6 linked regions of the Homo sapiens genome follow. The main gene of each other region encodes a partner of the protein of the gene in region 4 in a complex. Each region holds a gene or a part of one and is shown on either strand. Other genes may lie near its edges. The genes, in order: ARID1A, SMARCD1, PHF10, SMARCC2, DPF3 and ACTL6B.

What was found.
Region 1: SMARCC2 (region 4) and ARID1A share a complex: the UniProt entries of both Homo sapiens proteins name them as parts of the neuron-specific chromatin remodeling complex.
Region 2: SMARCC2 (region 4) and SMARCD1 share a complex: the UniProt entries of both Homo sapiens proteins name them as parts of the BAF complex.
Region 3: SMARCC2 (region 4) and PHF10 share a complex: the UniProt entries of both Homo sapiens proteins name them as parts of the neural progenitors-specific chromatin remodeling complex.
Region 5: SMARCC2 (region 4) and DPF3 share a complex: the UniProt entries of both Homo sapiens proteins name them as parts of the BAF complex.
Region 6: SMARCC2 (region 4) and ACTL6B share a complex: the UniProt entries of both Homo sapiens proteins name them as parts of the BAF complex.

The regions. Positions count from the first base shown.
Region 1 is NC_000001.11:26,771,633-26,776,334, reverse strand, and holds part of ARID1A (AT-rich interactive domain-containing protein 1A), read right to left. Parts: intron 3,836-4,702; coding exon 3,703-3,835; intron 3,524-3,702; coding exon 3,348-3,523; intron 2,990-3,347; coding exon 2,839-2,989; intron 2,756-2,838; coding exon 2,618-2,755; intron 2,534-2,617; coding exon 2,437-2,533; intron 2,007-2,436; coding exon 1,115-2,006; intron 759-1,114; coding exon 628-758; intron 1-627. UniProt on the Homo sapiens protein: Involved in transcriptional activation and repression of select genes by chromatin remodeling (alteration of DNA-nucleosome topology).
Region 2 is NC_000012.12:50,094,647-50,098,781, forward strand, and holds part of SMARCD1 (SWI/SNF-related matrix-associated actin-dependent regulator of chromatin subfamily D member 1), read left to right. Parts: intron 1-2,203; coding exon 2,204-2,326; intron 2,327-4,067; coding exon 4,068-4,135. UniProt on the Homo sapiens protein: Involved in transcriptional activation and repression of select genes by chromatin remodeling (alteration of DNA-nucleosome topology).
Region 3 is NC_000006.12:169,710,514-169,715,215, reverse strand, and holds part of PHF10 (PHD finger protein 10), read left to right. Parts: intron 1-373; coding exon 374-483; intron 484-2,676; coding exon 2,677-2,830; intron 2,831-4,702. UniProt on the Homo sapiens protein: Involved in transcription activity regulation by chromatin remodeling. Belongs to the neural progenitors-specific chromatin remodeling complex (npBAF complex) and is required for the proliferation of neural progenitors.
Region 4 is NC_000012.12:56,168,637-56,173,338, forward strand, and holds part of SMARCC2 (SWI/SNF complex subunit SMARCC2), read right to left. Parts: intron 4,394-4,702; coding exon 4,301-4,393; intron 4,069-4,300; coding exon 3,949-4,068; intron 3,855-3,948; coding exon 3,792-3,854; intron 3,302-3,791; coding exon 3,043-3,301; intron 2,797-3,042; coding exon 2,635-2,796; intron 1,573-2,634; coding exon 1,508-1,572; intron 1,276-1,507; coding exon 1,140-1,275; intron 1,060-1,139; coding exon 893-1,059; intron 1-892. UniProt on the Homo sapiens protein: Involved in transcriptional activation and repression of select genes by chromatin remodeling (alteration of DNA-nucleosome topology).
Region 5 is NC_000014.9:72,768,097-72,772,798, forward strand, and holds part of DPF3 (zinc finger protein DPF3), read right to left. Parts: intron 3,798-4,702; coding exon 3,637-3,797; intron 1-3,636. UniProt on the Homo sapiens protein: Belongs to the neuron-specific chromatin remodeling complex (nBAF complex).
Region 6 is NC_000007.14:100,653,060-100,658,445, forward strand, and holds the start of ACTL6B (actin-like protein 6B), read right to left. Parts: upstream 3,390-5,386; 5' UTR 3,296-3,389; coding exon 3,271-3,295; intron 2,821-3,270; coding exon 2,744-2,820; intron 2,528-2,743; coding exon 2,362-2,527; intron 2,061-2,361; coding exon 1,960-2,060; intron 1-1,959. UniProt on the Homo sapiens protein: Involved in transcriptional activation and repression of select genes by chromatin remodeling (alteration of DNA-nucleosome topology).

The sequences.
Region 1 (4,702 bases), on a different chromosome or scaffold from region 4:
GCCACTGCACTCCAGCCTGGGCGACAGAGAGACTCAGTCAAAAAAAAAAAAAAAAGAATATTGTTAAACAATCAAATCCCCCATCCACTCTACATCTAAGGAAAACTGGGATCAACAAAGGCCCCTACTGTTCAGAGAAGAAAGGGAAAAATGGAAAAAACATACTCTGCTCACTGATAAAAATTTGACCACAGATTCAGGCTGGGCCTGGTGGCTCATGCCTGTAATCCTAGCACTTTGGGAGGATCACTTGAACTCAGGAGTTCATGAACCTCGGCAACATAGTGAGACCTCGTCTCTATTAAAAAAACAAAAAAACACAGATTCTTCTAGAAAATGTGGTGTCCCCACTGGCATCGATTGAATCTGAATTCTTACTAATACCACAAAGTGTCTCCCAAATTCCTTTTGAAGTCAATCCTGTGTTAAGGTTATCATGTAAACAAATTATTATTGCTGTCAAAATCCTGGGCCCGTGCCCAGAGGCAAAGGAAGCAAAGTACTGGCATGGAAGATATCTACAAGAGAGAAAGAGAAAGACCAAGGTGGCTAAAGATGAGACATTCCCATTGTCTACACTAAGAAGATCCCAAACCCTCTCAATCTTCCCCAGGCACTGATACTCACCTGACTGAGGTTGAAGGTCATGATGCTGTTGTCATCATACAGCAGGATGTTGATGGTATCTAATGCCCATGTGCTCTCTGCCAGGAGACCAGACTTGAGGGACATCATTACCCGCCATGCCTCCGGGGTTCCTGAAATAAACCTCCATGTCGTCTATCCACCAAGCCCAGGTTGGCTGGAGGCACCCCTAGGGCTGCCCCATCAGTGAAGCTACTCTGAAGATAACACAAGGTGGAAGGCAGTTTCTGTCTGGGAGATGAAACACACCAGCCCCTCATGGCTTCTAAGCTGTCTGTCTAGGACTTCATTGCATGGCAATGAAGGAGAACCTTTAGTTAGCTTATTTCTTCCTTTTCCAAAGTTCTTTGGTTCTATTTTAGTCAACACTGGACCAGATTCAACCTCATCCAGAATAGTAAGGTGGAGGGAACAATGGACAAGATGGAAAGGGGCAGATTAGGCAACCGAATGAGGAAGATCTCCTTACCAATGTCTTTCATTGTGAGCCGCCTCCTCTGCTTCAACACAGGCTGTGTGGCTTCAACAGAGCCAGGTGGGAAGGTGATATCCCGCCGAATCATGGGGGGCTGCACAGGGGCAGGTGCTATGTGCGAGGCAGGTACTGGGGGACCTGCCTTCTGCATTTTCATCCCAGAGTGCAGGAATGGAGACTTGCTAGGAGAGGTGCGGTTCTCCATTGGCCGGGGCAGGGGAGCAGGGCTGGATACCTGAGGAATGTGATTCTGCATGCTTGGTGGGGGCTGGTAGTTAGATGGAGGGGGCCTTGTCATGGGGGGCACAGGGGCAGAGGGACCATATGGGGGCTGGCGTGTGCCATGGGAAGGCCACGAGCCTTCGTGGTTGGCCCTCTGATCTGTGTGCAGCATTTCATCTGTTCGGTTCACGCCATGATAGGCGGGGCCCTGGGGGGCAGAGCCCGTGCTCTGCCTGTTGGCATAATTATAGGTCATGTCATTACGCCCCTGCCACATGGTGCCTTGCTGAGCAACCTCAGCTGATGCCTGTATGGGGCCGCCCATCATTTGTGGTGGCATGTTTTGCTGGGCATTGGTGCCAGGGGGTGCAGAGACACGGTCTCGGCCAAACTGGAATGGAAATTGGTTCTGGGGGCCGCCTGCTGGTCGGCGCTCAGTAGCAGCTGTGGCAGTGGCAGGATAGGCATTGCCATACTGGTTGTATACATCTTGCTGAGGGGAAGGCTGGGCAGCTTGTTGCTGGCTGGCAGGCTGGGGCTGGGCTGGGGGCAACTGCTGCTGCTGAGGCTGCCCCTGCCCAGTGCTGTATGGCACGCTGTACATCTCCCCTTCGTGCCGCTTGGCAGGAGGGCCATATGTGCCATCCATTGGCCGCTTGTAATTCTAAGGCAGAGACAAGCAGAGGGGAAGTTAATACTCTGCACTCAGGGACATAAAGCCCACAGATGCCAAGATGGCTACAACCAGATGCTTGGTGGACACAGACTCCAAGAAAACATGGGAATCACCTTAACAAATTGTCTTTTGAAGTTGTTTCCAAAAGCAACCACCACTCTTTCTTCCCTTCCCTTGCTTAAGTAGAAAAATATACAAAACCTAAAAATCAAAATAAGGTCTATTTCTAGCCCCTTCCAACTCCAAATAGAGAAGAGATTGAGGACGTGGCTCTTCAGGCAGGACTGGCCAGTCAGGTGAGAGAAGAATGCCAAAATATCTAAAGTGAGCTTCTTAGACTTCAACACGTTAGATTAGTTTACTAACTAGTTTTCAAGGCGAACCTGCATGCCAGTCCATTCCCAGCTACCCTCCTCACCTGCTGTTGCTGTTGATACATTGTAGTCTGCTGGCTGGGGAAGGGGCTGCCAGAAGGGGTGCCTTGGGTGGAGAACTGATTGCCATAGGAATCATGTCTATAGGAGGCAAAGAAACACAGGATTAGGGTGGGCAGTGGCGAAGCCTGATCCATAGCAGCACCGAGACCAGGCTTTACTCACCGTTGCTGCTGCTGCTGCTGCTGCTGCGGGGGGTAGCGGCTAGGAGAATACATCCCCGAGTCTGGGTTGGAAGGCATGAGATTCGGCTGTGGGGCCCCAGTGCTCATGTTTCCCTCAGGCCCTATTCCAGGCTCCGTCCTAAACAAAATTGGAGAGGCAGATTGAGCCCACTATAGCTTCAGGGTGCTGGGGGAGTGGACAGGAGCTGGGGTCATGCTTACCTCACTCTGTCATAAGGACCTCCATAGGGATAGTGCTGTCGTGGTCCCATCGCCACATTTCCTAGCCCAGGGCCGGCAGCACGACTGTAGGGGTCACCCATCCCGCCGTTGGGGCCCTGCCCTGAGGACATGAAGGGATCACTCCCTGGAGCTGAGCGTAGAAAGGCAAGCGGTGAACAAACTGGTAAGTTGACAAGCCTGGTAATCTACCCTTTGACCCAGGCCCTCTTCAGAGTTCAGGTTTGATCTCATTGTTTTCCAGACAAGTTCAAAACAGAGATCTAAAGAGGCCCCAACCAGCGAAAAGCATGTACTTATTAAGGGATGACAAGGTGAAGCCAAGGAGAAGACAAGAAAGGAGGTAAGGATGAAGAGGGGTAGTTAGGGCAGGAAATGCATTATCTCAGAGGATGGCTCCACAAGAACCCTGAGCCATTCTCAAGATTTCCCCCCATTTCACTGGCCCTGTCTTTACGAGCACAAGTTCAAATAGCAATCAGATCAGTCACCTTTCCTCATGCTGCCATAAGGATCCTTATTTGGCTCATAGGACATGCGCCCCATCATGTCAGAGGTATTCATACTGGGCTGATACCCAGGGTTTGGAGTCATGGAATTCCGCTTCTGGAATGTGGAGTCACTTCCATCATTAAAGGCATCCTGGATCCCAACTGAATTGCTCCTGCTCCAGAGTGAGGAAAACCAAGTAAACCACAAATAAACCAATTCCTCCAATATAACAAAGGACACGCAGGAGTCACTGGCTGGGAAGGCAGAGGCAAGGACCACCTTGGGCTGCAAGGAGTTCCCATGCACTTATCTTCAGCCATCCTCCCAACCATCTGCCCCTGCTCTTGGCCTTACCTCATGCCTGGCAATGGGGGGATCTGACTGTGTGGTGTGGATGCTGGAGTTGGTGGCTTTAAGTCTCCTCCTTCTGCCATGGAACTGCTGGTTGACTGGGGAGTCTGGGGCCCCTGCATAGATCCTGATCCCGCTGTGGACAGAGATACAAGTTGAGTAGTTTGCTTGGCATGACAGTGTTTAACTCTCACACAAACACACGAACGACCCAGAATCTCTTTGGGAAAGTTCTTCCTAAGGCCTTTAAAGCCTGATCACCCTTCTTAGCAGAGGATCTACAAGGCCAGGTCATAAAGACGGGAATCTGAGGGTTTTGTAGCTCTTTGTTTTTGTTTTACGTGTAGAAAAGAGGAGTGATGTGGCCATGACATCACCATGCTGGTGATTCCCTGAGTCATTGCCAGCTTCCCTGGCTATTTCTCTTCACTCCGCCAAAGGACCTTGTCTAACCTACTAAACCCTGTAATGCTGGTGCATGAGCTCCAGTCAGAGCCTCCCAAGTCCTGGGTGGGAAGGGGGTCCCAAATCTGGGATGCATTTTAGGAGTCTAGGAGCTCCTGTTCTAAAGCATCCAGCATGGTGTCACTCCTCAACTTCAAATGTTCTTCTAAGCTGATGAGTACAAAACTACTAGTAATTAATGTTTCCAATAGTTACCATTCCCAGCAGTAGATATCCCACTGCTGAGGCCTCCCCAGCTGATGAGTCATCTCAGGCACTCATTACACCCTCAGAGGTCAACACCAGGGCACATGTGTTTACACCCACCTTCCAGGCACCCTGGCCTTCTTCCCTCTCTAGGCTCACCCTAGGCCTCAGCCTCCTCTCAGAAAGGAGGGTGAGCAGAGCCACTCCCATCAGGGAGTTCCATTCATAACCCTTCCCCACTCCCTCCTTCCCATTCATTACCATCTCAGCTCCCTGGGGAATTCAGGGCTCTAGTCTGAGCTGCATTCTAAGGTGCTGACATCAATAGGCCAAAGCTCCCAGATGGCCCTGC
Region 2 (4,135 bases), 6.1 Mb from region 4:
GTGTTCATTCAAAATACGGTGACACCCAGTATATGTCAGGTACTGTGCTTGGTGCTGGTTTGAGCCAGACTCAAATGAATTCTGATTGTGGGGATACTCTCAACAGCACTGAGCCTCGGTTTCTGATTTGTGGAATAGAGACCATAGTACCTTTTTTTTCCTTTTTTCTTTTCAGGAGTCTCGCTCTCTCGCCCAGGCTGGAGTGCAGTGGTGCAATCCCGCCTCACGGCAACCTCCACTTCCTGGGTTCAAGCGATTCTCCTGCCTCAGCCTCCCAAGTAGCTGGGATTACAGTCACCCACCATCACACCCGGCTGATTTTTGTATTTTTAGTAGAGACGAGGTTTCACCATGTTGGCCAGGCTGGTCTCCAACTCCTGACCTCAAGTGATCTGCCCGCCTCAGCCTCCCAAAGTACTGGGATTACAGGCGTGAGCCACCACGCCCAGCCCATAGTACCTATTTTAATCAGGTTGCTATGACGATTAAATGAGGGAGTGTGTGTAAAGACTTGAGACTGTATCTGGCACATAAAAACAACAAATGGTAACTTCTGCTACTATTATTGTTATCTGGGTTGTTATTACTAGACGCAGTCCTTGCAAATAAAGCCAAAAGTGCTTTGGGAACATGAAGGAGAAAGGGAGGCTTTGCTGGAAGAGTTGATGCCCCAACTAAATCTTTTCTTTTTTTTTTTTGAGATGGAGTCTTGCTCTGCCGCTCAGGCTGGAGTGCAATGGCATGATCTTGGCTCACTACGACCTCCGCCTCCTGGGTTCAAGCAATTCTCCTGTCTCAGCCTCCTGAGTAGCTGGGACTACAGGCACCTGCCACTACGCCCGGCTAATTTTTGTATTTTTAGTAGAGACGGAGTTTCACCATATTGGTCAGGCTGGTCTTGAACTCCTGACCTCAGGTGATCCACCCGCTTCGGCCTCCCAAAGTGCTGGGATCACAGGCGTGAGCCACCGCGCCCGGCCCCAACTAAATCTTGAAGGACAAAGTGGGTGTTAATGAAAGGGCAAAAAGGATAGTAGTGCTGGGGGCATAGGAGGCAGAAGACGTTCCAGAAAGAGGGAATAGGGCATGTAAAGGTCCAGAGAAGAGAGAGAGAGCCTGGTGTCTTAAAGAAGTACGAGCCATTTAGTATGCTAGATGCAGCATAGAGTGCCGAGGACGGGATGTTTTGGGAAGGAAAGCTAGATAGGGAGCCAGATGCCTAATTATGAAGAACCTTTGATTCAGGGAAAACTGGTTTATGTTTCATCCCGAAGACTGTGTAAGACAGCTGGTTGAGAGATCATTACCAGTGGAGGGACTGATGCTATTTGTATATAGAATGATCACTTGCAGGAAGGTGGATGGAGAATAATTTGTCAAGAGGGCAGGGCTGGAGGCAGGAAGCCCAGTTAGGAGGCTGGTGCAGTAATCCATGTGAGACGTGTTGAGGCCCTAAATTTACAGTCCCGACAGTGAGGGTGGAGATAAGTAGATAGATTTGAGAGGTGTCAAGGTGGAATTGAAGGAATTTGGCCACTGTTTGGATTATTAGAGTGAGGGATGAATGAGAAGGAAATGTTATGATGCCTCCCAGGTCTCTAGCTTGGGTGGACAGTAGTATTTACTATGACTGGGAAGAGGGGAGGAGGAGGAGCAGGTATTGGAGAAACGGTAGTGAGTTTAATGTCAAGTTTAAGCAGTTGGATTGGTTGGAGTATAGAAGATAGACTCTGGGCTGCAGACTGGGGACTCATTACCCTGTCACTGGTAATGGAAGATATACAAGTCAAAGAAATTGCCGGGAGGAGTATGCAGAATGAGAAGAGAGTTGAGAACAAAACCCAGAGATGAGAGCTTATGAGACAGCCCCATATGCCAGTCCTTTTCTTCCTGAGAACACTTTTGGACCCATTTGTGCTGTGGAGTAAGTATTCATCATGTAGCTTTGCCCATAGTGGGCAATGTGGAGACCAAAAGGAAAGCTTTCCTCACATGGGGTATACAGAGAGACAGAAACAAGGGCAAATTACTTGCTGAAAGAATGCCAAGGGTCGGAGCAGTTGGAGCTCTATATGATGGTGCCAGCTGTGGGCAGCATGGTGACTAGGTTGGAAGTGGCATGTGGAGTTGTCAGGCACCACCTGCCATTTAACTTCTCATTTTTCTAGTTTGAAAATGGTATGAGCTTCGTTCTTCCTTTCAGATCCATGAGACAATAGAAACCATCAACCAGCTGAAGACTCAGCGGGAGTTCATGCTGAGCTTTGCCAGAGACCCTCAGGGTTTCATCAATGACTGGCTTCAGTCCCAGTGCAGGGACCTCAAGGTAAAGAACCTAGGAGAGGTCTGAAGGGACTTAGGTCAGTGAGGTGCACAGCTGCTTTATTCATGTAGCAGCTGGTAGGAGACCCAGAGGAAGGAGTGAGGGGCCAGATTTTTCTTTAGCATGTTCCAGGGTCCATTTTGCAATTAAGCAGGGAAATGGGGGCAGAGCCATCAAGTGTTGATTTAGTGCTTACTTTGTCTGTCACTGTGCTTCATCTTGTCAGGGATACAGAGTGGAAGACCTGATCTCTGCTTTCAAAGCAGCCTACATTCTGTCTGAAGAAACTAGGCTAGTATAGCCGGGCATGGTGGCTCACACCTGTAATCCCAGCACTTTGGGAGGCCGAGGCCGACGGATCGCTTGAGGTCAGGAGTTTGAGACCAGCCTGGCCAACATGGCGAAACCCCGTCTCCACTAAAAATACAAAAACTTAGCTGGGCGTGGTGGTGCGCGCCTGTAATCCCAGCTACTTGGGAGGCTAAGGCAGGAGAATTGCTTGAACCCAGGAAGCAGAGGTTGCAGTGAGCCAAGATCGTGCCGCTGCACTCCAGCCTGGGTGACAGAGCGAAACTCTGTCTCAAAAAAAAGAAACTAGGCTAGTATGATACAAAGTAGTAAACCACATAAGACATTATCAGGCCAGGTGCGGTGGCTCACGCCTGTAATCCCAGCACTTTGGGAGGCTGAGGAGGGCAGATCACCTGAGGTCAGGAGTTTGAGACTAGCCTGGCCAACATGGTGAAACCCCATCTCTACTAAAATAAAAAAATCAGCCAGGCGTGGTGGCGGGTGCCTGTAATCCCAGCTACCCAGGAGGCTGAGGCAGGAGAATCGCTTGAACCTGGGAGGTAGAGGCTGCAGTGAGCCGAGATTGCGCCACTGCACTCCCAGCCTGGCTGACAGAGTGAGACTCCATCTCAAAAAAAAAAAAAAAAAAAAAGACATTATTAGACTGACCAGGACCAATAAGATGATTCAGATAAGGGAGATCAGTGAGACTAGAATCTCTGGGGAAGGCTTCATGGAAAATTTGGGATTTGAAGACGTTCCCAGAAAGGGGAGCACAGTAAGCTCAGACAAGAAGATAGGAATGGGCACAGAGTATGAACTCATCCGTTGTCACCCCTCCTGTGCTGACTGTGACGAGTTAGAGAGGCTGAGCAGAGGAGCAAGGAAAAAGGGATGCCAGGAAAGATCCCTGAACAAGGCAACGACTTGTTGATTGCAGAGGTGACTGGGTGTTGTATCAGTTTGCTGAGGCTGCTGTAGCAAACTACCACAAACTGGGCAGTTTCAAACAACAGGCTTGTCTCACAGTTGTGGAGGCTGGAAGTCCAAAATCAGTGTGGGCAGCACTGCTTCCTTCCGCGAGCTGGGAGGGAGACTCTGTTCTGTGCATCTCTCAGCTTCTGGTACCTCAGGCATTCCTTGGCTTGTAGGTGGTGGTCTCTGTGTGACTTCACGTTGTCTTCCTTCTGTATGTGTCTGTCTCCATGTCTAAATTTCCCCTCTTTATAAGGGAACCTACCGGTCATATTAGGGGGTACTCTAATGACCTCATCTTAACTTGAGCATCTGTAGAGACCCTATTTCCAAATAAGGTCACATTCACAGGTACTAGGGGTTGGTTAGACTTCAACATTTTGGGGAAGGATACAATTTACCCAATAATGGGTGTGAAGGAAGGAAACAAGCCTTTTCTCCTCTCTCTTCCTCCACCCTGCATCTCCATTTCCCTCAGACAATGACTGATGTGGTGGGTAACCCAGAGGAGGAGCGCCGAGCTGAGTTCTACTTCCAGCCCTGGGC
Region 3 (4,702 bases), on a different chromosome or scaffold from region 4:
GTGCGTCCCAAGAGTTTTTAAGAGATTTGCATGTTAATTCTCATAGTAACCATGTGAGGTTGGAACTAGGATTACTTCCATTTCATAAAGAAATTGAGCTACAGAGAGGTCGTATAAGCTACCCAGATCACTCTGCTGTTAAGTAGTGAGCAAGAGATCCACTGCCATTCCTCAGGAGAATAGGCCTTTAAAACAATAATATATAGAACTGAAAGCACCAACTGTCCTCTTAGGTTATAGCTCCTGATATCTCCTAAAATTTTAGCTTTTCGAGGGGGAAGTGGGCGTGCAGTGGTGAGCACGTGGGGACTCTTCCTAAAGCCTTGATTCTTAGCATGGAATCAGTTTTGTGTTTCTCTTTATGTTAACGTAGGTTATCCAGGTACCTCAAGGGAAGTACAAAGTTTTGCCAACAGAGCGAACAAAGGTCAGTTCTTACCCAGTGGCTCTCATCCCCGGACAGTTCCAGGAATATTATAAGAGGTATTTAGTAGTTTTAGTTACAGTTGGTATCGGCTATTGGTAAGGGGTTTCAGAGCCTTTTGTACTTGCCTCCTAACAATTTTGGGGTCTATAGATATCACCGTAAGATATCGTATAGGATTTGTGTTGCTATTCTTCTCTGGTTCTGTGGTAAACAATACCCTGTAGTCAGAATTTGAATATATGCTGGTGAAGTCTAGATGCCTCTGTCTCTGCCCATTCTGTTTGGGTTTGTTAGAGACAGATGCTGGGGGTTCTGTAGCACCTCACTGCTCAGGGTATGTTCCGTGGTCCAAAGCACTGTTATTGCTCAGAAGCTTGTTGGAAATGCAGAATCTCAGGCCCAACTCTAGACCTATGACTCAGAGTCTGCATTTTAACAGATGTCTGTGTGATTCATGTGCAGGTTAGAGTTTGAGAAACACTGACTTTTACTGCAGAGAAGATGAGAGAAGGAGCGGAGAGGGGCAGGCATGGGCAACTGGGTGCCCCAGCCACATTGCTGACCTGGCCTGGCTGCTGCTCCAATATGGACCCTAAATGTTACTTATCTCCTATTCCCAAATTAAATGTAACTGAAAAAAACAGGGCTAACAGATTCTTTTTTTTTTTTTTGAGACAGTCTTGCTCTGTACCCAGGATGGAGTGTGGTAGTGTGATTTCGGCTCACTGCAACCTCTGCCTCCTGTGTTCAAGTGATTCTCCTGCCTCAGCCTCCCAAATAGCGGGACTGCAGGCACATGCCACCACGCCCAGCTAATTATTTGTATTTTTGGTAGAGGTGGGTTTTACCATGTTGGCCAGGATGCTCTTGATCTCTTGACCTAGTGATCCGCCCACCTTGGCCTCCCAAAGTACTCGGATTAAAGGTGTGAGCCACTGTGCCCAGCCCATTTTGTTTTAAAGTCTCAGCTTTTACTTCAACCTTAAGCCTTACTCTGGAACCGTATGTTTTTCATAATATACTATTTTTTAGAGAATAGAATTTAAAATATAGTATCATAACTCACACCATTTGAAAGTCAAATCTTGGGCAGAAATTTTTTAAATAAAAAAAGATTTTTTAAATTCAAATTTAAATCATGAGCAGCAATTTTTTAAAAGTTTTTCTTCAAATTTTTTTTTTTTTTTTTTGAGATGGAGTCTCACGCTGTCGCCCAGGCTGGAGTGCAGTGGCGCGATCTCGGCTCACTGCAACCTCTGCCTCCTGGTTCAAGTGATTCTCCTGCTTCAGCTTCCCGAGTAGCTGGGATTACAGGTGCCCGCCACCTTGCCCAGCTAATTTTCTGTATATTTAGTAGAGACGGGGTTTCACCATGTTGGCCAGGCTGGTCTCGAACTCCTGACCTCAGGTGATCTGCCCACCTTGGCCTCCCGAAATGCTGGGATTATAGGCGTGAGCCACTGCACCCGGCCTTTAATTTTTAAAAATTTTATTTTGGCATCAGCAAATTATTAAAAGTCATATGCAAGTATATTAACCCCTTTGCTTTTTGGTGTGTTGTCTTAGTTGGAGAAGTCTTCATCTAGGGTTGCCTCCTGAATGGGGGCTACTGAGGGTGAGAATGGAGGTGGCACGAAGCAGTGCTGTCTGACCTAGGGGAAGAGATTGCCAATATAGTTTCAGACAAAATAGATGATTAAATTTGTTAGAATACATGCTTCCCAAATTTGTTTACAATAATTGGTTACTAAAAATTTTGCTTTCTATGTTATTATTTTAAGTAATATCATGTACCATGCACTGGTGTGATATGTATGCATTAAATAAGTTAATGCATATATATCAACTGTATGCGGTAGATGCTATTATTAGGTCTGTTTTACAAATGGAGTGACAGCACAGAGAAGTAGCAAAGACCTGGGACAGTGGTCGAGGTGGATGTGAGCTGGCAGCCAGACTTGGGGCTGCTGACATTTTATTTACTTTTTTCTTTTTTTGGGTTGAGGGCAAAGAGGGGAGGCACATTATCTCTTAGTAAGAATCAAATGCATATTTTACATAAGTCTAGTGAAAAGATGTTCAGGCTTTTTATTAACCCTACTTGATGACAAAAATGAAAAATTAGTACTCTAGTTTTCAAAAGTCTTCGGGGTTACTCAAGAAGTTTAAGGCTATCTTCATAGGTCAAAGATGAGTCTGTTTATATTTAATAATAAAGGGAAACCAAAAATAAACTCTCTGAACTTCAGGTACTCACCAGATGAGCTGCGGTATCTGCCATTAAACACAGCCCTGTATGAGCCCCCTCTGGATCCTGAGCTCCCTGCTCTAGACAGTGATGGTGATTCAGATGATGGCGAAGATGGTCGAGGTGATGAGAAACGGAAAAATAAAGGCACTTCGGTGAGAACATTTCTCTCTAGTAGGAAGCATTTCCTTTCTCTTTGAATTTTTGTTACATTGAATTTCTGTCATCACCCTCTCCTTGAAAAAGGATGGTTGCATGTAATTTCCAGAAAGTATTCATCAATAAAAGTTACTTATAGTATGTTTTGATAAAAACAAGCAGTGAATGGCCTTTGGTAAGCTTTATGCTTAAAATCGCCCCTTTGTAGTTACCATGAGCAGTTTAGGCAAGGGTATGGAAAATTAGCTTACAATCATTTATTCAACTTGCTGTCTCTTTAGCTTAAAATATTGAACAAAACAGAATTTGATCTCTTGACACAGAAATGTAGTTTTCTTAGTTGAGGGGAGTGCATTTGCTTAATCTTATGCTTCCTATAGGAAAATATTATGTTTAGTAATATGTTGTACAATTTGTTGGGTTTTCCTGTATGACTTTTTTTTTTGTAGCAAAATGCACCTGCAAGACAGTGGGCAGTTGGTGTATTCTGTGCACCTGAAGGAGAATAAAATCCCAATGATGGTTTGGGGCTTTGATCCCAGTGATGACATAGGGCTTTGAATTTCTTTAGCATTGTGTTTTAAGTAACTGGCTATTTCAAACTTTTCATTGAAGCCAATGTAAATGTGAGATTGTGCTACCATTGAATGGACATTATTTCCTTGTCACCAACAGCTTCTAAAACATCTTTAATAATACATATTATGCAAAATAAGATACTGTTCAAGTATTAAAGTGGTGACACAACTTTTCTCCTGTCATGTTGCTAAAAGGGGAGCTATGGCATGCAAAGGGTGATGAAGCTGACTTCCTTTCATACTGCTAGGAAAAGTGTAAACTAATCCAACATTATGGGAAAGCATTTTGACAGTCTTACCAATTTAAGTTCCATAGTATTTGACCTAGCAAATCCACTAGTAGAATTTATCCTAAGGATTTAATCAGATGCTGAAAAATTTTAATTAGAAAAAAAGGTCCATTTGAGTGTTGACAGTATTTTTTATGCTGGAAGTTACAAATAAATTTTAATGCCCACAGTGGGTAATATTATATTACATTTATAGGATAGAAATGCAGTTCAAAGAATATTTAATGATTGTGAGAAAATGCACATAATGCTTTTAAAAAATACCAAAATACACATATGCATACACACACAGTGTAATCCAGTTTTGTATTTTAAAAAATGAGGGCACAATGAGGTAGGGGGTAATGTGTGAGTCTCGGTATCTTTATGTATATAAGTGGACACCCAGAAAAAAGATAAAGTAGATACATTCATGTTTCTAGTCAGTGTGTGTTTATCAGGGAGGCTCTAGATAACCTAATTTTTTAATTTATAATTTTTGTAATTTATATGAAAGTTCTAATTAGAACATTTTAAATTATAAAATGAAGAATTAAATGATCAGATACTGAGGTCTTAAACCTTGAATATATAAAATATTTCAGATCCTGTTGTAGATAGTTGAGGGATTGGCTCTGCATAGTTTAACATTGTGAAAACACAAATGTGTACTTGAAGGACTTTTTTTTTTTTTTCCTAACTGCAGCGCTTCATTTTTCCTGAAGGACCTTCTTAATGACTTTTAGTACTCAGTGAAAATACCCACACTTATTTGTAACAATATATTTTTGTATGAAACAAATATGTTCCCTTGTGACGGAAAATGATGTTGAAGCTGTGTGCCGTAATAGTAGCTGAAGCGGATAATTGTGTTTTTGTGACTTATGTCAGAAAACAAAGTTGATGAAGGCACTGATATGGAATCAGTTTTATATAATATACTTAGAAGAAGGAGGAATGATTTTTAACATAACTTACTTTAGTCTCCACTGGAAAAAGCTTTCTTACATTTAGAATGATC
Region 4 (4,702 bases):
GTCCTGGGATTACACGCGTGAGCCACTGCGCCCAGCCTTTTTAAAAAATTAAATTATTTTGGCCAGGTGTGATGGCTCATGCCTGTAATCCCAGCGCTTTGGGAGGCTAAGGCGAGCAGATCACTTGAGTCCAGGAGTTTGAGACCAGCCTGGGGCAACAGGGTGAAACCCCATCTCTGCTAAAAATACAAAAATTAACCGGGCATGCTGGCACGTGCCTGTAATCCTAGCTACTTGGGAGGCTGAGGTGGGAGAATCGCTTGAACCTGGGAGGTGGAGGTTGCAGTGAGCCGAGATTGTGCCACTGCACTCCAGCCTGGGCAACAGAGTGAGACTCCATCTCAAAAAATACATAAATAAATAAACAAGCATGGAGGCTGGGCACGGTGGCTCACGCCTGTAATTCCAGCAGTTTGGGAGGCCAAAGCGGGTGGATCACCTGAGGTTAGGAGTTCAAGACCAGCCTGGCCAACATGGTGAAACCCCATCTCTACTAAAAATACAAAGAGTTAGCCAGGCGTGGTGTAGCACGCCTGTAGTCCCAGCTACTCGGGAGGCTGAGGCAGGAGAATCACTTGAACTTGGGAGGTGGAGGCTGCAGTGAGCCGAGATCTGACAGAGCAAGACTCCGTCTCAAAAGAAGAACATGGAGATAGTGTGGCAAAGGGTAACATGGAGTCAAATACTGACAGGGTTGAAAACAGGCCCAATGGTGATATATTTTTTAAAGCTTAGAGAAGGGATGACTAACTTTACCTCCTCCTGAGATAAAAATAAAAAATAAATAGGTCAGCATTATTTAAGGTGTGAGTGAGGAAAGATTTCCTCTAAGTGAGATGAGATTAGAGAAGTGGACATTTTCTTCCCTGAGGTCTTCAAGGTCTGGCCTCACCTTAGCTTTCACTGCGGCGGCGGCCAGGGCGGCGGCAGCAGCGGTGGAGAGGTTGCCCTCGCCAATGTCCCGCTCCACCTTTGTCTTCCTTTCCCCCTCAGACTCCACCACTTCCTTCAGCACTTCCTCCTGCCCTTCCTTTGGCTCCTTCTCCTTCTCAGGATCGACTGGGCCAGGACAAGGGTTGAGTTAGCCCCACAGCTTCACCTCTGTCCTGCACCCCCACCTACCCTTGTGGGAGGCTCACCTATTGGGTCTCCATCACTCTTCTCGGACTCCTTCTCACTGTCGCCTTCTTTCCCTTTCTCCTCATCCTTCTTGGGAGCCTCGCTGGTTTTCTCTTTTGCTTCCTCCTCTATAGCACCCCCTCCTTCTCGGGGTTCCTGAAATTCCAGTGATAGAAAAGGAGAGTTATCAGGGATTAGGGTGATTAGTTCTCACACAGAGGGGCCAGACGGGGAACTAAATTTATTCCTCTTACTTTGGAGGTGATCTGATTCTAGGAGACAACCCCGTCCAAAACCAGCCCTTGCCCACCTAAGCTGAACAAGGCCAACTTCCCCATCACCACAGTGCTGCACGCAGCCCCTGCAGCTTCCAGAAATCCCTCTATACCTTGGGCTCCTTCTTCTCATCTGTGGCCTGGCCTTCCACCCGAGCCTCGTCATTCCCGCTCTCCTCTGGGCCCATGAGAAAAGAAAGAAAACAGGAAATGTTTAATACACAGTCGTCTGTGTCTAACACTTTTCTTTTTTTTTAGAGACAGGGTCTTGCTGTGTTGCCCAGGTTGGTCTCAAACTCCTGGGCCCACGCAATCCTCCCACCTCAGCCTCCTGAGCAGCTTGGACTATGGGTGTGAGCCGTTGCACCCAGCTTCTCCATAACACCTGTTTTTTTTTGTTTTTTGTTTTTTTGTGACAGGGTCTCACTCTTGTCGCCCAGGCTGGAGTGCAGTAGCACAATCATGGCTCACTGCAGCCTTGACTTCCCAGGCTCAAGTGGTTCTCTCACCTCAGCCTCCTGTGTATCTGGGGCTACAGGCGCATGCCACCATGCCTGGCTAACTTTTTTGGTATTTTTTGTAGAGACGGGATTTTGCCATGTTGCCCAGACTGGTCTCAAACCATCTGCCCACCTCAGCCTCCCAAAGTACTGGGATTACAGGCATGAGCCACTGCACCCAGCCTTCACAAGACTTTTTTTTTTTTTTTTTTTTTTTTGAGAGACGAAGTCTTGCTCTGTTGCCCAGGCTGGAGTGCAGTGGCTTGATCTTGGCTCACTGCAACCTCTGGCACCCAGGTTTAAGTGATTCTCCTGCCTCAGCCTCTGAAGTAGCTGGGATTACAGGCACGTGCCACCACGCCCAGCTAATTTTTGTATATTTAGTAGAGACAGGGTTTCAGCATCTTGGCCAGGCTGGTCTTGAACTCCCGACCTCGTGATCCACCCACCTCGGCCTCCCAAAGTGCTGAGATTACAGGCATGAGCCACTGCGCCCGGCCTTCACAAGACTTTTCTAACAGCCCCTTCTACAAGCAAAGATTTTTCTACCCAAAATCTTCATGAGAGGACTAGTAGGGCTCCAGAGCCCCTGAGGTAAACTCATGGGGAAAATAAAAACCCTACCAATGTTCTCATTCATGTTGTGCTCTAATGCCAACTTGAGGCAGAAATGGCACAGGAGGCCAGGTAGCTCTGGATCTTGTGAAAGGCAAGAAATCTGGGAACCTGCCTGGCCTTACCAATCCGCTCAGGCTCATCAGAGGTGGTTCCTGCAATGCCACTGCTTTCCAGACCGAAGGCAGGGTCCGCCTTGCCTGTTACTTTGGCTGCTTCTTCCACTTTTCGAACATGGGCCTCCACCAAGGCCGTGGGTACCTCTTCCTTCATTTTGGAGAACTCCTCTGCAAGACCCAGAAAGAATGAGGCTGGGAGCGGCACAGTGGAACAGTTCTGGCAATCCCTGCAAAAGCTTACTCACAAGCCCATGTCTTCATCTAAGCTAGTATGGAGCCTAGACAGGTGCCTGAGCTGAGGCCCGCACAGACAAGGCCAGCAGGGCAGCCAAACTTGAGAGGATTCACAGTCTGAGTAACTAGCCCTTCAAAAGCAAACTAAGAAGGCCAGGTGGAACCACCCACCCCCATTACCTAGGGCTGACTTTGCAGCAGCAGAGGCGACTCGGGGATCGACGACAGAGGCCAGGAAGGCAACAGTGCTCATAACAGGGTTGCCCGACTGACTGAAGGGGATGGGTTGGTAGGCCAGGGGGCCTAGGGAGGCCTCTGAGTCCTCCAGGTATGGGTCTTCAATGGGAAGACGAAGAAAATGCAAGATGCACTCGTCCTGTGTGCGGCTTCCCACATGCTCGGACACTTTGTTCCAGTCATCTTTGTACATTTCCAGTGCCTGGTGGTAGTGGTGGAGACATAACTCCGCTTACTTAGCCACTTTTCTCGAAGGCTGACTCCCCCCATCCTACTAAGGGCAGCTGGTTTCAAAGTTCTCTATGTTCTGGTATTTGTGTACTCTGCTAGGTCCAAGGGGGATCTTGAAGTAGCACTAAGAAAGGATATGAAGTTAATGAAATGGCCCAAATCCCCAGCCTGGAGCTGGTCCTGAAGCTCACTGGAGCCTTGACCTCCTAGGCTCAAGCAATCCTCCCACTTAGCCTCCTGAGTAGCTGGGACCACAGGTGTGTGCCACCACACCTGGCTAATTTTTAAAATTTTTCGTAGAGACGGAGTCTCACTATGTTGCCCAGGTTCATCTCGAACTCCTGGACTCAAGTGATCCTCCTGCCTTGGCCTCCCAAAGTGCTGGGATTACAGGCGTGAGCCTCTACACGGAGCCCACTTCTGTTTTCAGAGAAAAACTCTCTTTTCTTTGCCCCAATTACCTCCAGGAGAAGCAGGGTTTCCTGTTCTGTCCACTCACGAGTGGCACTGGCTGCAGCCTTGCTCTGCAGGGGAAACACAGGCAGGTGAGAAGAAAGGAGCCTGTGACCTCTGAGGAGCGAACATTCTCTACCCCTAGAGTCGGCCCGCACCTCCTACCTTGGAGGGAACATTCTTTTTTGTGTACATGTCTGTGCGCAGCCCAAAGTTTTGCATGTCTGTTGGTTTCTCTTTGCCTTTGTCAGGAAAGTTGAGCATTTGTTGGGAAGCAGAGGTCTGCTATTTGTGGAGGGAAAGAAACAGGTGAGTACAAGTGACCACCGGGAGCCAGGGGCTGACAGAGAGAAAAAACAGACAGAAGGAGCTTCTTTCCCAAAGCCAGGGACACCCCTGGGTGGGACTTCCTCCCTTACTGCTGTAGTTCCTCTGCTCTCATGTCTCTTCTTCCCGGGCAGGGGCCCCCCAATAAAGGGGAAAATGAGCAGCCCAGCAGGGTCTGCACCCCACCTACCAGCTCTGGCTTGCCCTTAGCCGTCTCTGGCACCAGGTCATCCAGCTCTTTGCCCTTTCGCCCAGCCTTGGTATCAGCATCAACCTGGCGGCCCTGGGGGACAGAGCTTGGCGTCATGGAGGCTGGGCAGGAAATGACCAGGCCAAGGCCCTGGAGGCCTCAAGACCATATGCTGGGCGGCCCACAAGCTCTGGGGGCACTCATGCCACTGTTCCATGTTCCCTTCATGATTAATAAGACATGTCGTTGGCATGATATCCATACATATTCACATTATCTTTATAGGTTCTCTTAGGAGCTGGACAATTAGGTTCTAATCCTAGATTTGGTACTCTGTGACCTTGGGCAAGCCACATAACCTTCTTCCTAATTTTTGTAATGGATGAAGTGGAAATGGAAAAA
Region 5 (4,702 bases), on a different chromosome or scaffold from region 4:
AAGGAAAACTAAGAAGTTGTTACCATCAGATTTACTCTAAAAGAATGGCTAAAGAAAGTACTACATCAGAAAGTAAATGCTAAAAGAAGGAATCTTGGAACTTCAGTAAGTAAGAAAAACAACGAAGGAGTAAAAATATGAGTAAATACAATAAACGCTTCTCTTACGTTTTCTAAATTATGTTTGATGGTTGAAGTAAAAATTATAACACTGGTATGGTTTTCAATGTATGTAAAGGAAATGCTTAAGACAACTATATTATAAAGGGAGGAGGGTAAAAGGATTTAAATAATGAGTGTTGGGTGGTAATAGAATAGTTTTGTATCTTGATTGTAGAAGTGGTTACACAAATCTAGACATGTGATAAAATGGCATAAAGCTACATATACACATTTTACCAATGTCAGTTTTTTGGTTTTGATATTGTAAGATGTATTAATCTTGGAGGAAATTGGATGAAGAAGATAGGGGATCTCTATTATATTTGCAACTGCAAATTGCAAATACAGTCACAATTGCAATTATTAATTATTTCAAGATAAAAGTTGATTTAATAAAGAAGAAATTATATGAATCCCCTCCCCACTCAAAAAGCAAACCCTGATAAGTGAAAGCAAAATGAAACAAATAAATCCAACTGTGTATTGAGTTAGTGGCACAATCACACAGAGGAACTATCTCAGTGACCTTAAAGGAGAGTAATTTGGCTGCACATGTTTAATGGAATATACCCTAAGGACAAAAAGACTTGCAAAAAAAAGAAAATATCTTAAACCTTTTTCAGTAATCTTATTGTTAATAGTCATATTGTTTGTTCTGATACTGTGTGTGAGTGTCTGTGTGTGTGTGTGTGTGTGTGTGTGTGTGTGTGTGTGTAAAATAAAGCAAATAAGTAATTACATCAATATCATTTCTAGGATTTTTTGGTGTAGGAGAAAGGAGATACAGAATTAAGATACTTAAGTAAAAACTGTTTAAATCTAAATTGAATGGGATGTATCAACATAATTTCATAATGTATTTTCTCTTAAAAAGAAAAAGAAAAAAACAAATGAATACTATTTCTTAGTTCTAGTCACTGATAAGGCCTAGAAACAATGACCAAGCCAGGAGCAATGAACAGCACTGCGGTCTCTAAGTAACTTTTCCTACAAACAGGAGCCAGGATTTCTTCAAGAAATAGCTGATTTCAGTCCTGGAGAGGAGGAAGTGTACAGGATGAGCTTGAAATATTTCATCCTAATATTAGGATGGCAAGAAGGCCATCAGAAACTACTGGGGTTGTTTCAAAACACCAGCACTGGGCCGGGCACGGTGGCTTACGCCTGTAATCCCAGAACTTTGGGAGGCCGAGGCAGGCGGATCATGAGGTCAAGAGATCAAGACAATCCTGGCCAACATGGTGAAACCCCATCTCTGCTAAAAATACAAAAATTAGCTGGGTGTGGTGGCATGTGCCTGTAGTCCCAGCTACTCGGGAGGCTGAGGCAGGAGAATCGCTTGAACCCGGGAGGCAGAGGTTGCAGTGAGCCGAGATCATGCCACTGCACTCCAGCCTGGCTACTGAGTGAGACTCCATCTCAAAAAAAAAAAAAAAAAAAAACACATCAGCACTGGCCAGAATCCTGAATGGCCAGAGATGAGGCAAGATAAGCCTCATAAGAATAATAGCTACACTGGATTAAAATACATCAAATATGTTTAAATCTGTGAGTTCCTGGTGGTATTCAAAAAAATAATTATTATTATATTGATCGTCTTTGGAGAATGCTAGGGAACCAACTCATTATTTTGAAAACTGGTAAATAGAGGGGAAAAAAGTCATTTATCCTGCCTTTCATATGTGAACTGTATCTCACAATAACTAAAATTTTAATGAGGGAATGTTTTTCTTTATAGAAGTTGTAGAGCTAACAAATGAAGATATAATGATAGTCCTGGATTGAATATTAACTTTTTGCAACCCTTAATGGGATAAAGAATCTAGGCAATTATCATGAAGGGCTGCTAACATCAGTAAAAGAGGTAACCAGACTGTATGAGCCTCTTGATGAAAGTACACACTACCACTCAGGAGTTGTTCTTACCAAAAAAAAATGGAACCTGAATAAATCTCTAGACCTAACTACCAATTCACAGTAATAACACCATGGGAACGCAACCAAATCCTTCTGGGAAACCCTACAGCGTAAGCAACCCAGTGTCTTCAACAAGTAACATGCAAGGAGGAAAGAGAGAGAGGCAGAGACAGAGAGAAACCCAGAGATGTTAAAAGACACATTAACCAGTTGCAATGTAGGGTTCCCATTTGGATCCTGATTTAAACTACAGGGGGAAAAATGAATGTTGGCCAAATATTTGATGATATTAAAGTCTTATTGCTAATTATTTGAGCTCTGATAGTGATTGTGAGTGTGTTTGTTTGTTTAAGTTCTTTACCATTTAGAGATACATAACAAAATATTTACAGATGAAATCACGTGCTTTTGTGGATTTGCTTCAAAATAAAATGAGGTCAGGGAGAAAAGTAAGGAGTGCGTATAGATGAAACACGATTGACCATGAGTTGAACATTGTTGAAGCAGGGCTACATGGGGATGTGTTTTACTATTGTCTTCAGTTTTATATGAAGGTGAAATTTTTCCAAATGAAACATTTTTAAAAACATATCCAGGCAGAGCCAGAAAAATCACATTCCTGTAGCTGTCTCCCTAATAAAAAGGTCTTTATTCTGTTCTTTGCAGCCTAGAAGACTAGTGTCACTGTAGCTGTAGTAATAACAGTAATATCAATAATAATAGGCCAGGTGCAGTGGCTCACGCCTGTAATCCCAGCACTATGGGAGGCCCAGGCAGGCAGATCATGAGATCAGGAGTTCGAGACAGCCTGACCAACATGGTGAAACCCCGTCTCTACTAAAAATACAAAAACTAGCTGGGTGTGGTGGCGCACGCCTGTAATCCCAGCGACTCAGGAGGCTGAAGCATGAGAATCACTTGAACCCGGGAGGCGGTGAGTCGAGATCGCACCACTGCACTCCAGCCTGGGCAACACAGCAAGAGTCCATCTCAAAAAAAAAAAAATAACAATAATAATAATAATACCCAGCATTTTGGAAGCACATACTTGCTATGTGCTAAACTCATTTAAGAGTTTTTATAAATTTTCTCATTTAATTCAGACGAAATCTTATGTGGTAAGTACTATTATTATTCACATTTTACAGATGAGGAACCTGAGGGACAGAAGTTTGGTGACAAAGGTAAGCCTCACACCCAGATCTAATGGCAGATTTCCGGCTTGTAACCAACACCCAAAGGTAAAAGATGAAGATTGCTGTCATGTCCTCAGTCTTGCCTTCTTTGGGATAAACACCTTTAGCTCTTTCACTCCCCACCCCACCCCACCCCTGCCACATGGCTTCAATGCCCCACACCATCCTTGTCACATTCCTTGAAACACCTGCCAGGAGCCATAAAAGTAGCTGAGCTTCTTTAAGGTATCTCAGAGGCCCATGTGCAGCTTGCCCCACCCCGATCCTACCCAGGCTGCCTGGTTTCCCAGACAAGCTGCGGTCCTCCTCCCTCCAGGCTGGGAGCCTGCACATGCGCATGTCCCAGGAGTGGCGCAGCTCACCTGGGCCTCGGTGCCTCTTCTCCATCCAGATGTAGCAGTTGTTCTGGGCCACCCCAGTCTGTGAGTCCAGGAAGGGAAGACGCACGCTGCGCTCTGCACACAGCCGTGAGTTGTAACTCCGGCAGTGCTCAATGGCTTCCTTGTAGAACTGGTCCCCGAGCCTGCCAGAGTCAGAGAGTGAAGGGGTGAGGCCAGGGAAGACTGAAACACACCCAGAGGGAAACACACCCAGAGGGAAACACACCTCCCTGGAAAGACTGAAGACCTCCCAGTTATGAAGACCAAGGCAATGAGCACCAAGAGCCTTGCCAATGAGCAGAATGCAACTCAATGTCAGGTCTTGACTAGATTTTATTTTCTATCCCAAATCCACCAGGCAACTTAGAAACTCCTTTAACAAAGAGCATGGGCTTCCAAGGATGAATCACCAGTAAGAGAGAGCTGTCCATGTTCTAGGAAGCATGAGGTCCCACTCCAGAAGGGAAGTAGCTCTGGAACAACCTTCTGCATGGAATCTAGAGGACATCACACTTCTAGAACCTCCTCACTCATATTAGCTACATTTTATTCTCAGAGGTCACCAGCAAAGGCACTCTAGGTGAACCCAAATCACCAGCAAAGATACTCAGTTTTCCATTACAACAGAAGAGAAACACTCCATATAAACAAAAACTAGGACAGAAAAAACATTCTATAAAAGTAGGGAAATTGCAGGAAGAAGGGGGTGTAGAGGAACAGGCACCAATCTTTTAAAACCATATTACTTAAAGAAAAATAACTTTCCGATAGAAAACAAACAGAATTCAACAATTTTAAATTCAAAATAATTCAACTCATGGAGTTTAAAAAACAAATAGAAAGACCTTTCTGGTTTGCTAGACTGAGAATCTGATTAAGCACAGTATATTTTACGTTCCTGACTCTTTGGTATTTTTGGACACGTGGTGATGCTACTAATTTTAAGGTAGTGTCCTTTTCAAAGACCAAAAATGGAGCATTGATATAATTGATCAAATGCAAAGCACTAAAATAATCAATGAGATCAAATACCTACCAAATAAAACAT
Region 6 (5,386 bases), on a different chromosome or scaffold from region 4:
CCAGTTCTAGGAAAACAAAAAGTTGCACAAGAAAGGAAAGGTGATCATGGTGTATTGCCTGTCTCAGGCCTGATTAGCATACATAGTAATAGGAGTGTAAATATTGGGCTGAGCACAGTGACTCATGCCTGTAATCCCAGCACTTTGTTAGCTGAAGTAGAAGGATCGCTTAAGCACAGGAGTTTGAAGCCAGCCTGGGCAATATGATGAGACCCCATCTCTGCAAAAGATTCTCTTAAAATTATTTCTAATTTAAAAAGAATGTAAATACTGAATACTGATTTCTTTTAAAGTCTAAAATACAACTGGGCTGGGTGTGGTGGATCTCGCCTGTAATCCCAGCCTTTTGGGAGGCCGAGGCGGGCAGATTGCTTGAGCCCAGGAATTCAAGACCAGCCTGGACAACATGATGAAACCCTGTCTCTAAAAAAAATTTAAAAATCAGCTGGGCATGGTGGCTTATGCCTGTAGTTCCAGCTACTCTGGAGACTGAAATGAGAGGATCACTTGAGCCCAGGAGACCAAGGCTGAAGAATTGTGCCACTGCAATCCAACCTGGGTGACAAACTGAGCAGACCCCCTGTTTTTGAGGCAAAGTCTCAAAAACAAACAACAAACAAAACCCCAAACAACAACAACAACAACAACAAAACCCACTGTACTTAAAGGAGGGTGATAAGAAATACGTGTGGCATAGGCTGGGGAGGAAAAGAGAGCTAAGCGATCATTTTCTAAAGTGGAAAATTCAGCGATAATACCTAAAACTAAACACTCCACAGGCAGCAATTTAAGTGTAGTATTAGAGATATGGAAGAAAATACCCCCAACATTAGCTAAAAAGGAGAAAAACAGTTGCTTTTATAAAGAGGAATTTATAAGGAGGTGGGTAAGAACATTTTTTTAAATGAGGTTTTAAATTTTTTTTTTTTTTGAGACAGAGTCTCGCTCTGTTGCCCAGGCTGGAGTGCAGTGGTGCGATCTCAGCTCACTGCAAGCTCCGCCTCCCGGGTTCACGCCATTCTCCTGCCTCAGCCTCCCGAGTAGCTGGGACTACAGGTGCCCGCCACCATGCCTGGCTAATTTTTTGTATTTTTAGTAGAGATGGGGTTTCACCGTGTTATCCAGGATGGTCTTGATCTCTTGACCTCGTGATCCACCCGCCTCGGCCTCCCAAAGTGCTGGGATTACAGGCGTGAGCCACCACACCCGGCAAAAAATTTTTAATTTTTATTGTTTTAATAAAAGAGACGGGTCTTGCCATATTGCCTAGGGTGGTCTCAAACTCCTGGGCTCAAGTGATCCTCCTGCCTTGGCTTCCCAAAGTGTTGGGATTACAGGTGTGAGCCAACATCCCCAGCTCACCAAAGTTGACCATAATAATAATAATAATAATAATAATAATAATAATAATAAGTGAAAAGGTCAAAAAAGGACTTGGAGGCTGGGCGTGGTGCCTCATGCCTGTAATCCCAACACTTTGGGAGGCCAAGGCGGGTGGATCACCTGAGGTCAGGAGTTCGAGACCAGCCTGGCCAACAAGGCGAAACCCCCTGTCTACTAAAAATACAAAAAATTAGCCAGGCGTGGTGGCGGGTGCCTGTAATCCCAGATACTCAGGAGGCTGAGGCAGGAGATTCCTTTGATGTCGGGAGGCAGAGGCTGAGATCTCACCATTGCACTCCAGCCTGGGTGACGGAGTGAGACTGTGTCAAAAAAAAAAAATTTAAAAAGGACTTGGAGACAGAGAAGGGCAGCAGAGTGCATAGAGCAAGAAGAGAGCAGGAGGGATGGAGACTTAGCCAAGAAGGAAGGAAATTGTTTGGGATGGGTGAGGGGAGTCTGAAAAGGGAAGGGAAGTGGCTCAGAGCAGTGGCTTGAGGGGAGAGGAGGAGAGGTGGATGGTGGGAAGGAGGTGCAGTGGAGATCAGGGTTGGACATGAGGATGGAGGAGGCACTCACCGGAGCCTCGGACATGAGCACTGGGTGCAGGTTTGGCTCAGACTTGACGTGTTTGCTGTAGGTGTGATCCAGGATGGCTCGGAAGCACTCCCAGTCCTCGACTGGGGCCAGAAGAGCAGCGTGCAGAGACGCAAGAAGGCAGGCAGGGGACAGGGACAGGAAGAAAAGGAGGGAGAAAGGCCAAGCCCAAAGGAGGGTCAGTGAGTCCAGCTCCAGGGGAACGCCCCCCTTCCCAGAAACCTGGTGGGCCCCTGGGAAGGGAACCCAGCGAGAAGAACCCTGGCAGCCAGAAGAACCCTGGGGCTGCAAGGAAGACTCCGCGGGGAGTGGGGGCTGCTATGACCCAGATTGTGGGGAGCGGGCTCCTTTTCTGTCAGGAGGTGATGGGTGGGGGCCCCTTACTCATGCCATTCTTGAGGGGCGACATGACCTCCGCTCCATCCCGAGGCACGTGCAGGGCATTGGTGTCGATGTGGAAGATCTTCCCTTTCTTCTCTTTGTCCCCCTCCAGCTCCAGCCCGCCCCCCTCCTCCGCGGCCAGCAGCCCCACTGTGGTGGGGAAGTCAGCCTGGTGGGGAAGGGTTGGGGGAGTATTGGCAGGGAGAGAGGTCACCCTCTTGCCCCTGTCCAGCCCCACAGCAGGGTCCTCAGACCGCCCCTGGGTTTATTCCCATATTCCCGCTCAGCAGAGCTTCTGGGCGATCTGGGAGAGCCCTGGGTCACTGGAAAGCCTGAAGAAGGGTCCGAAGCCCCTAGGATTTGGAGAGGAGACTGGAAGGCTCACCTTGGGACAGTCCTCCCCAGCGTACCCAGCGCGGACTGAGAAGGAGCCAATGTCAAAGACCAGCGCCCCCACCTCATCTGTGCGGGGAGACAGGCCTGTAAGGGGACCTCCCCCGAACTCTCTCCCGCTAGGTAGCTCCGAGAGAAAGTCAGGGCAGAGCCACAGTCTCGCCACTTTCAACACCAGTCTGGGGCCGGTGGGAGCTGGGCCTGGAGTCCGAGGTCCTGGGACTGGGGGTGGGGGCATCACACCGCCAGGGTCCCTTCTTGCCCAATGGCCTTGCTCAGGGCACCCTCCCGACGGGAAAGGAAGGGGCCCGGGGCCAGGTGGAGGTGGGTTGCAAGGTAGGGCCCTGTGCGCGCGGGGCGTCTGGGGAGGACCGAGCGCAGGGGTGGCGGGAGACCCGAGCCTGAGACTCGACCCGCTCGTGCGCGGAGGTGACAGGCCCCGGGGTGCCCAGAGCTCGGATGGATGGCGCGGGTTTGGAACGCAGGGCTGCGGGAGCCGGGGGCCCGAGGCTCGCTCACCTCCGCCGTAGACGCCCCCGCTCATAGTGCCCGCTGCGCTGCTAGCGGCCCGTGGGCGGTGGCGGGATCAGCACCGAGGCGGCCGGACAGCTCCCGGGATCCCTGGCGGGGCGGGACTCTCAGCGGCCAATTGGGAGGCCGGATCCCCCGCTCCAACGGCGCCGCCGATTGGCTGCCAGGCGAGACAATGACCGACCGGGGGCAGCTGCTTTAAAGGGGAAGATACACTCTATTAAGCGGCCAGGAGGAGATGGGGCAGGGGGCACCTAGCAGGGACTTAGAGACCGTCGCTAAGGAACTGGCGGCAGAGAGGAGAGCAGGGAAGAGGCGGAGACCAGGACTCTGCAGGACGACTGATGAGGTCCCTATCCCCTTGCTTTTTATTTTTATTTTTATTTTTATGGTAGAGACGGAGGTCTTGTGATGTTGCCCAGGCTGGTCTCGAACTCCTGAGCTCAAGCGATCCTCCTCAGCCTCCCAAGTAGCTGGGATTACAGGCAGGTGCCAGCACGCCTGGATTAAAAAAAAATTTTTTATAGAGACGGGGTCTTGCTCTTTTGCCCAGGTTGATCTCGAAGTCCTGGCCTCAAGCGATCCTCCCACCTCAGCCTCTCGAAATGCCAGAATTACAGGCGTGAGCCACTGCGCCCGACCTCTACCCCCTTACTTTTTAAAGCAGGATTGGGGAGAGAGGTCCAGTTCCCAGAAGGGTTATCTATCTTCAGGCTGCTCTGAGCCCGGTTCTGCCACACCCAGGCCTAAATGGAATCACCAAGGTCTAAATGGAATCACCGGGAGAGGGAGGGAAGGGAAGATTGAGAGAGGGACCAAAGGGGGTGTGTCTCCATCTCTCTCTGTTTTTACCTTTTTTTTTTTTTTAAGAGACTGGGTCTTGCTACCTTGCCCAGGCTGGTCTTGAACTCCTGGCCTCAAAGTCCCAAAGTGCTGGGATTAAAAGCATGAGCCACCGTGTCCAACTTCCCTCCTTTGTCTTTCGTTGGCCCCTTTTTTCCTTGCCTTGCTTTCCCCCCCACCCCCCGCAGTACCTAGGCCTTATACATGTGTACACATGCTTACACATGTGTACATACGTTCACACACAGGCATTCAGCCCATCTGGCTTTAGCTTCCTTTCTCCATCTGTCTCTCTTCAGCGCCTGTTCTCCTGAGGAGGCATTTATCAACAAGAGGGTTTTTGTTTCTTTTCTTTTTGAGTTAGGGTCTTCCGTCACCCAGGCTGGAGTGCAGTGGCACACTTATAGCTCACTGTAACCTTGAACTCCTGGGTTCAAGTGATCCTCTCGCCTCAGCCTCCTGAGTAGCTGGGACTTACAGGTGCACACCACCACACCTGGCTTTTTTTTTTTTTTTTTTTTTTTTAAGAAAAAACTATGTTGCCCAGTCTGGTCTCGAACTCCTGGCCTCAAGTGATCCTCCCACTTTGGCTTCCTCAGTCACTGGGATTACAGGTGTCAGCCACAGCGCCTGGCTAACAACAGGGTTTTCTACTGCTTGGATCCCAGGTTCTTCTGGGCTCCCAGTACCACAGTTTTGGTAGCAAAGGCAAAGGAGCAGCTCTGACAACTTGGGGTAGGTGAGGGACTCTTATGTGAGGGTGTGTGTGTGTCTGTATGTATGTGTCTATGTGTGTTGGCATATGGGTGCATGTGTGTACATATGCACATCTGAATGCTTGTGTGTGTTGACTATGCCCATCTACTTGTTTGGGGGCGAGGGAGCTTTGAGACCAGAGATAGCACAGGAAGTGGATACTATGTGAGGTCCGCGTGCCCCTGAAGGTTCTCTGCTCACCACATGCCCACCCTGGAAGAGACTCCACCCCTCCCCGGCCAAAGGACAGATGGCTTTAGCTGGCTCATGGATTACCTACTGACGACGGTGGCATTTCAATGCCTAGGGTTGGTTCCAAGTTCAGACTTGGCTTCTAAGACTGAAAGGGTCCAGGTTTCAGCAGGAGTGGTGAGCTGTAGGGGAGAGGGCCGACTCAGGAGCTGGGAGAGTGAGATTTTTCCAAAGTGACCCTAGGTCAGTCCATTGAGGTCTGGAAGAATTGAGTGGATCTCTTAAAGTGCTTACATTTCTTTTTTTCTTTTTG